3 separate regions of the Homo sapiens genome follow, and regions 1 and 3 are each linked to region 2. The links come from fine-mapping of genetic effects on gene expression. A gene starts in region 2. Each other region holds a variant in brackets. All regions are shown on one strand. Distances are from middle to middle.

The links.
Region 1: its variant is fine-mapped to the expression of CRK in whole blood (TOPMed, PIP above 0.99).
Region 3: its variant is fine-mapped to the expression of CRK in whole blood (TOPMed, PIP 0.93).

What each region holds. Positions count from the first base shown.
Region 1 is chr17:1,420,214-1,423,049 of GRCh38, forward strand. CRK (CRK proto-oncogene, adaptor protein) reads right to left here. Exons shown (of 3, transcript NM_016823.4): 3 at 480-2,836. Among named protein-coding and RNA genes, the nearest start is that of CRK-AS1, 3.0 kb to the right of the region's middle. The variant T/C (reference allele first, on the strand shown) is at 1,370.
Region 2 is chr17:1,454,711-1,457,210 of GRCh38, forward strand. It overlaps CRK (CRK proto-oncogene, adaptor protein), which reads right to left and starts at 1,522. Exons shown (of 3, transcript NM_016823.4): 1 at 1,167-1,522. The coding sequence starts at 1,407. RefSeq lists an enhancer at 691-1,676 and silencers at 941-1,070, 1,181-1,240, 1,331-1,830.
Region 3 is chr17:1,430,103-1,432,951 of GRCh38, forward strand. All of the region lies in intron 2 of CRK (CRK proto-oncogene, adaptor protein), which reads right to left. Among named protein-coding and RNA genes, the nearest start is that of CRK-AS1, 6.9 kb to the left of the region's middle. RefSeq lists enhancers at 1,948-2,448, 2,449-2,849. The variant C/G (reference allele first, on the strand shown) is at 1,189.

The DNA.
Region 1 (2,836 bases), 34 kb before region 2:
TTACAGGCATGAGCCACCACACCCGGCCTAATCCCATCTTTAATAAGCACCCACTGAGCTTGTATAATTGTTTATCTAATTATATGACTGCAGGCTGCTGAAGGCACATACCTCCTATCCCCTAAGCATAAAGATTTACCTCTCGCTGGGTGCGGTGGTGGCTGAAGCCTGTAATCCCAGCACTTTAGGAGGCGGAGGCAGGCGGATCACCCGAGGTCAGGAATTTGAGACCAGCCTGGCTAACATGGTGAAACCCCATTTCTACTAAAAATACAGTAAATTAGCTGGGCGTGGTGGTGCATGCCTGTAACCCCAGCTACTCGGGAGGCAGAGGTAGGAGAATTGCTTGAACGTGGGAGGCGGAAGTTGCAGTGAGCCGAGATCGCATCACTGCACCCCAGCTTAGGTCACAAGAGCGAAACTCTGTCTCAAAAAAAAAAAAAGATTTAGTTCTTTTGTGAAAAATATTCAAAGATTACTTTTTTGCAAAAGATCACCAAGCCAAACATTTGGCCATATTTTTATTTACTACATATACTATAAACATATACAATACATGCTACCAAAAAAAATTTTTTTTTAAATTTAACTGTCAAGAAAGTGTATAGTGTTATAATACAATGGCACATGTTTATATTTTATTTCAAATTGGTTTGCTTATCACCTATTTCAAACCATTAACAGTGAAATGTTACTTGTGGATAATTAAAAATTATCTATTTGCATTATTAACAATAAACAATTCCAACAAATTAATAAGAATTAACCATGTCAAATATTAGTATTCAAAAAATGGGATTTGCAGAAATGATTATATAAAATATAGCAGCCAATTTCAGTTTACTTTGCCAATAGGATTTCAGCATTTGCTTTTTTTTGGAAGACACTTATAAGACATCCTTTGATTTCTTGAGGGGCATTAACTGCCACACTCAACAGTCAAATCCAGCCCAGTGGTTCATGAACGGCCCTGGATCACTGATCACTGAGGAATCCTTAGGACTTGAGTAGCGCTGCCTGTTCCACTGATATTACATATGATGAAAAGAGACATTACAAGCCAATATCAAAGTCAAAGGAAAAGAAAATAGGAACATTCAAATCAGTTGTGACAAGGTTTTTCTACAAGTATTTTTGATGCCATACTTTCAGGAAAACAAGATTTAATGTGTGTGTGGACTTTACAGTATCTACGTTCTAACTGAAAATTTAACAAAGCAGTCAGATGGAATTACATGTAGTATTACAAATGTGTTCATTCAACACTAATGAGCACCCACTCTGTGCATAGCACTGGGCTACCATTTTACAAGTTGAGTTTAACGTCTTTATCAAGCATGACCTTAGTGTGAGGTAAAATACATTAAAT[T/C]AGCGTCAACGCGTTAGTCTGCTTGCGGCCATGTACGGAATCCTGGGCCAGCTGGCTTCCCTGTGCCACGTCACCGGTTTCTCAGGTCTCCTCATTCACTCAGACAAATACGTGCACACTGACTGTGTGTCAGACAGTGTGCCGGTCACTCGGACACCACAATCTGGTATAGGTTCAAAGAATGTAAATTTATCATTTTAACCTATGCAGAACAATTAGAAAGGCAGATTATTTTTCCAAAATGAGGTCCAAAGCAAACTATAAGGTGTTTCTATTGGTCATACCACACCAGAGACCGGTAAGTGCCTTTATAGACTGAGAACTAACGTGGAAGTTTCATGCTGTCGTCTAAATAGCCTAGGTCATTTTTGGTCTCATAGGTCTATTTTGTGGAGCACCTGACCCCATATAAATCATTCCATACTTAAATGGGTTTGTAAACTAAACCTGAACATAAACAAAGAGCCAAAAATGAAGGCAGTTTACAATGTAATGTTCTTCAACAGCATTACTCTCCCCATGAGAAATGAATAATACATAAGTAATTCACAATTGGTTCAACATTTTTTTTTCTTTTTTTTTTCCTTTTTTTTTTTTTTGAGACTGAGTCTTGCCCTGTCGCTCAGGCTGGAACGCAGTGGTGCGATCTCGGCTCACTGCAGCCTCCACCTCCCAGGTTGAAGCAATTCTCCTGCCTCAGCCTCCCGAGTAGCTGGGATTACAGGCGTGCACCACCACGCCGGGCTAATTTTTTATATCTTTAGCAGAGATGGGGTTTCACTATGTTGGCCAGGCTGGTCTCGAACTCCTGACCTCATGATCCACCCGCCTCGGCCTCCCAAAGTGCTGGGATTACAGACGTGAGCCACCGCGCCCAGCCGGTTCAACATTTTTTCAAAGCACTAACCCTACCCCAAATTCATGTAATACTAACTTGACTTTTATACAAGTTGCACAGAATGCAGAGGGCAGAATTTGACCCCAAAACCTTCCACAGAATATCAGAGGTGATTGGTCCTTCCACTCTTGAGTAGAACCTAAGAATTCCAAGAGTCTCCTAATAGGATACTGGCCCTCTGGAGAAATGGCCCTGCTGGATCCCATTAGTTAGGACTCTAGTTAGCTGCTGTAGAAGGGTGACCTACTACGACCCTTTTGGGGAAGGCAGAGAGCTGGGAGACTGGCTGTCCACTTAGTGAATCCAACACTGGCTTAAAGCTATGCACTGAATAAAGTGCTCGGTACATCCTGCTTTTCACCTGGAATGAAAATACACACTTATCTTAGGAATTCACCTACTTACAGGTTTGGGGGACAAGAATGTCAAGGGCTAAAAGAATCCCAAGAAAAAGTATGAAGCATTGACTAGGAGGGAACAAATGCTTCTAGTAGTGTTCTTAGAATTCTTAGGATCTGAAATGTCAGAATGAGTCACACGCTGGTCATGCTCCATACAATGAAAGCAAT
Region 2 (2,500 bases):
CGACTTGGCAACAGCGTGAAGGCACGAGGACTCCTGATGCTGTTACACAGGTACACATACAATGAGAACCCCAGAATTACTTTGTACCTCACAAATCTCCAGTACTAAGGGCATCTATCTATTCCCTTAAAACAGTCCCAAATCAACTCCAACGGCATCGGTAAGACAGTCAATCTCAGGGATCCCTCCCTGGCAAGGAAAACCCAGCGCAGGTAATTTATGTTCTTGGCGTAGAGTCTGTTCCCAATATCCAGGAAGACTCAGCCCGCAGCCCCATCTTACTGAGCAAGGTGACGCCCTGAAGTACACACCGACAATGTTTAAGTCCAAGGAAAATGAAGTTCCAGTCACTTACAGGGAAGGGTCTGTTTCCATTGCCTCACTTCTGGTTTATTTTGTGGAATAAAATGTCTTTCCTCCACTAAACACTTTGAAAACCAGAACTCTCTAACGGCGGACAGTCTTCTGGACGCTTAGATCTCTTGCACATAGCCAGGCATCGCCTTAAACTGGGTTGGGCTGGTCACTGAAGGCTTTCTGCTACCACTATTTCTTCTAGCACTTAGTTCACCACCTTCGTCCTCCACGGGGGAAGAGAACGGTACAAAGATTTTGGAAAAATGCCCAAGAAAGGAAAAAATTGACCGGTTTCCTGAGGGTGTCTCCATCCCTCCCGGCCAGTATGTGGTGACTTCCTACCAAAGGCCACCAGGGGAGCACGGCCAAACCCGGCTCTCCAACACGGCAGGAAACGTTTCCAGCCTAAAAGCCACTTGTAGGATTATCGGATTCATTCTGGGCGCCGCTGCCAAGTGATGCCCCCGCAGTGCCAACATCTCCCTCAGCTCTTTGTCCCCACGTTGCCTTGCCCTGCCCTACCCTTGCGCCTGGCCCGGGAGCCAGCCCCACCCTGGGGCCGAAGCAGTTCCCCTTCCCCGCGGCTGCCCTCCCCAGGCACACCCCGGGGCCTCGGTCCGCGGCTCCTCCTCCCCCACACTCCTGCTCCCCGGGTGAGAGCGAGCCCGAGCAGCCGGCGGGCCCCTGCCACGGTCACCCAGCCCTCTGCCCACGACCCCCGAGGGTCCGCTCTCGAGGACCAGCCAGCCAGGCTGGGAGTTCCGCGGCCCTCACCCCGCCCAGGGCCCGCCGTCCCGTCAGTCCCTCACCGGGCGGAGGCTGGGCGGGCGACGGTGGCACCGGCGGGCGCGGGCCGCTGCTGTTGATGATGTAGTGGGAGACGCGCGAGTTCTCTGAGACGCTGAGCACATAGTCCCCGGGGCTGGTGCTCGAGTCCCGCACCAGGAACACCCCGTGCCGCTGGCCCTGCAGCAGCGCCACCGCCTCCTGCCGACTCAACCTCCCCCAGTACCAGCTACTCCGCTCCTCCGAGTCGAAGTTGCCCGCCATGGCTGCCTCCGCGCCTAAACGCTGGGGTGCCGCCGCCGCGCGCGCCCCTCCGGCCCCCGGCGCCCGCCGCCCAGCGGACCGGCTCCGGTTTCAGCTTCACAGCAGCGCCCGAAATGGCGGCGGCAGCCGCGGGCCTCCCCCTCCGGAAATGACGCGCTCCCTGCCCGAGGGAGGCTGCCGGGAAGGGGCCCGCGGCCCGCCATTGGGAGAAGGGCAAGGCGCCCTCGCGCGCGCACTGCGCATGCGGATTCATGGGCGGTGCCGCCCTTCCCGGGCCCGGGCTGCGGGGGATGGGAGGCGGGGTCTAGGGCCCGAGGGGCGGGGCCTCGCAGCCTCCCGCAGAGACGCGCGCCTGCGCTGCGGACAGAGCGGTGCTTCTCGTCTGGGCCCCGGTTCCTGGACGACCTGGGACTTCTAGGCAGCGACTCCCAGACAGAATTGGAGGAGAAAAGATGCGTGTGGCCCTGGGGCCTGAGTTCTCGGCCAGGCTTCCTGCGATATCAGTCTGTTTCTTTTTTCTTTTTCTTTTTGAGACGGAGTCTTGTTCTGTCGCCCACGCTGGAGTGCAATGGCGCGATCTCGGCTCACTGCTCCCGGGTTCAAGCGATTCTCCTGCGTCAGCCTCCCGAGTAGCTGAGACTACAGGCGTGAGCCACCGCGCCCGGCTGTTTTTTGTATTTTTAGTAGAGACGGGGGTTTCACCATGTCGGCCAGGATGGTCTCAATCTCCTGACCTCAGGTGATCCGCCCGCCTCGGCCTCCCAAAGTGCTGGGATTACAGGCGAGAAACATCGCGCCCGGCCACGTCGGTCCGTTTCTGCTCGTTCCTCTAGCTTCTCCACAGACCAGCTGACGTTCTCATTTTCATTGATTCACCTAGGACATTGTTGTTGACACTCCACTTGCACTGCGGGTGCAAAGGTTATCATGGCTGGGCCCTGCACTCCTCGAACTCACAGACCAGTGAGAGGAACCAGGAAACTGGATGACAAAAGGATGACAAATGCTGACAAACGCTATCATGGGAAACGGACATGAACACAGAGCAGAGCCCCCACAGCCAGTCTATGGAGTAATCCAGGAGGGCTTCCCA
Region 3 (2,849 bases), 24 kb before region 2:
GGCACAATCTCAGCTCACTGCAACCTCCACCTCCCGGGTTCAAGTGATTCTCCTGCCTCAGCCTCCCACGTAGTTGGGATTACAGGCGTGTGCCCCCACGCCTGGCTAATTTTGTCTTTTTCATAGAAATGGAGTTTCAAAATGTTAGTCAGGCTGGTCTCGAATTCCTGACCTCAGGTGAAGAGTTCACCCACCTCGACCTCCCAAAGTGCTGGGATTACAGGCGTGAACCACTGTACCTGGGCTCATTCTGATTATTAGTATTATTTTTTGAGACAGAGTCTCGCTCTGTCGCCCAGGCTGGAGTGCAGTGGCGCGATCTTGGCTCACTGCAAGCTCCGCCTCCCGGGTTCACGCCATTCTCCTGCCTCAGCCTCCCGAGTACCTGGGACTACAGATGCCCGCCACCACGTCCGGCTAATTTTTTGTATTTTTTTTTTTTTTAGTAGAGATGGGATTTCACAGTATTAGCCAGGATGGTCTCCATTTCCTGACCTCGTGATCCGCCCGCCTTGGCCTCCCAAAGTGCTGGGATTACAGGCGTGAGCCACCACACCCAGCCTGATTCTGATTTTTAAACGGATAAAGAAAATTTGTAAGCAATCAATTGGGCTAATTAACCTGACCAACGTGGCTTTGAAGTAAAAATACCTCAAGGAAGACCTTGTTAAAATTAACCCTATGGCCGGGCGCTGTGGCTCATGCCTGTAATCCCAGCACTTTGGGAGGCCGAGGTGGGTGGATCACGAGGTCAGCAGATCGAGACCATCCTGGCTAACACGGTGAAACCCCGTCTCTACTAAAAATACAAAAAAATTAACCGGGCGTGGTAGCAGGCGCCTGTAGTCCCAGCTGCTAGGGAGGCTGAGGCAGGAGAATAGCGTGAACCCTGGAGGCGGAGCTCGCAGTGAGCCGAGATCACGCACTGCACTCCAGCCTGGGCGACAGAGTGAGACTCCGTCTCAAAACAAACAAACAAACAAACAAACAAATTAACCCTTTGTGCTTTTTGGGGCCTTTCTCCTGAAACGTTTAGAGCACATGAAAATGCTCCTGAGGTCCCAAAGGCACTATGATGATATTTAGAGACCAGGTCTTCCTGTGGTGCCACATGTGGCCTTAGGTCTTTAACAGTCTGGAGGAAGGAGTGGCTGCTGACTCTGGCTGGAGGAGGGCAGAGGAAGAAGG[C/G]CGGAGGGGGTGGGGCATTCTAAGAACATTTTGCTCCAGTAAATGCAGTTCTTCCTCCAATTCAGAAACAAAGTCAGAACTGTGCTTCCACCTGTTAATTCACTAAAGCATAATTCCCAAAGATCAGATCAGGGAAGGTGAGGGGTATCATACCGGGGCGGTGGCTCACGCCTGTAATCTCAGCACTTTGGGAGGCAGAGGGGAGTGGGTCACGAGGTCAGGAGATCGAGACCATCCTGGCTAACACAGTGAAACCCCATCTCTACTAAAAATACAAAAGAAAAAAAAAAGAAACTTGGTGTACTAGTTTTTTTTGAGGCAGAGTCTCACTCTGTCGCCTAGCCTGGACTGCAGTAGCGCAATCATAGCTCACTCCAGCCTTGACCTCCCAGGCTGAAGCCATCCTCCCATCTCAGTCACTAGAGTATCTGGGACTACAGGCATGTGCACCACACTTGGCTAATTCTTGTAATGATGGGTTTCACCATGTTGACCAGACTAGGGTGTACTACTTCAAATACAAAGGTGAAACCGAGTGCTTGCCCCAGAACTGTTACAATCTGACAATACAAAGGAATGTACTAATCAGTGAATGTAGTAATAACAGTAGTTCTAACACTACTGATTTCAAAATTCAAGTTATAAATAGGAAAGAAAAATCCTAATATGAATTACCAATGAACAACAAAGACTTCATACAGGACTTGAAGTACTACAAGGTAGTTAACCTTTCTTTCCAAGAGGGAGACCTCACTACAGCAAAGAGACTGATGAGTCTCACCACAGAGGAACTGTTTTACTGTCCAGGCTGGTCCTCAGCCTCCTCATCCTGTAACACATTCTTAGGAGCTTCTTACAGCTCTGTGGGATGGGATTTGAGACTGCACTCTGAATGTTTAAGAATAAAGACAACATAGGCCAGGCGGGGTGGCTCATGCCTATAATCCCAGCACTTTGGGAGGCTGAGGCAGGCGGATCGCTTGAGGCCAGGAGTTTGAGACTAGCCTGGCCAATGTGGCGAAATCCCATCTCTACTAAAAATAAAAAAATTAGCCAGGCGTGGTGGTGGATGCCTGTAATCCCAGCTACCCGGGAGGTTGAGGCACGAGAATCACTTGAACCCAGGAGGCAGAGTGAGATCACGCCACTGTACTCCAGCCTGGGTGACAGAGTGAGACCTTGTCTTAAAAAAAAAAAAAAAAAAAGGCCAGGCGCGGTGGCTCACGCCTGTAATCCCAGCACTTTGGGAGGCGAAGGCAGGTGGATCACGAGGTCAGGAGGTCGAGACCATCCTGGCTAACACGGTGAAACCTCATCTCTACTAAAAATATAAAAAATTAGCCAGGCGTGGTGGCGGGCGCCTGTAGTCCCAGCTACTTGGGGGGCTGAGGCAGGAGAATGGCATGAGCCCAGGAGGCGGAGCTTGCAGTGCGCCGAGATCACGCCACTGCACTCCAGCCTGGGCAACAAAGCGAGACTCCGTCTCAAAAAAAAAAAAAAAAGAAAAGAAGAACAAAGACAATATAAGATTGAGGTATTTAAACAGAGTTTGCTATCAAGTAGAATGGTGGACTTAAGACTATATCCTAAAGAACCACAATCCACAAAACACCTAGAAAAGTTGACTAAAATATAACAAGCATCCTTTCATCTTCACTTTT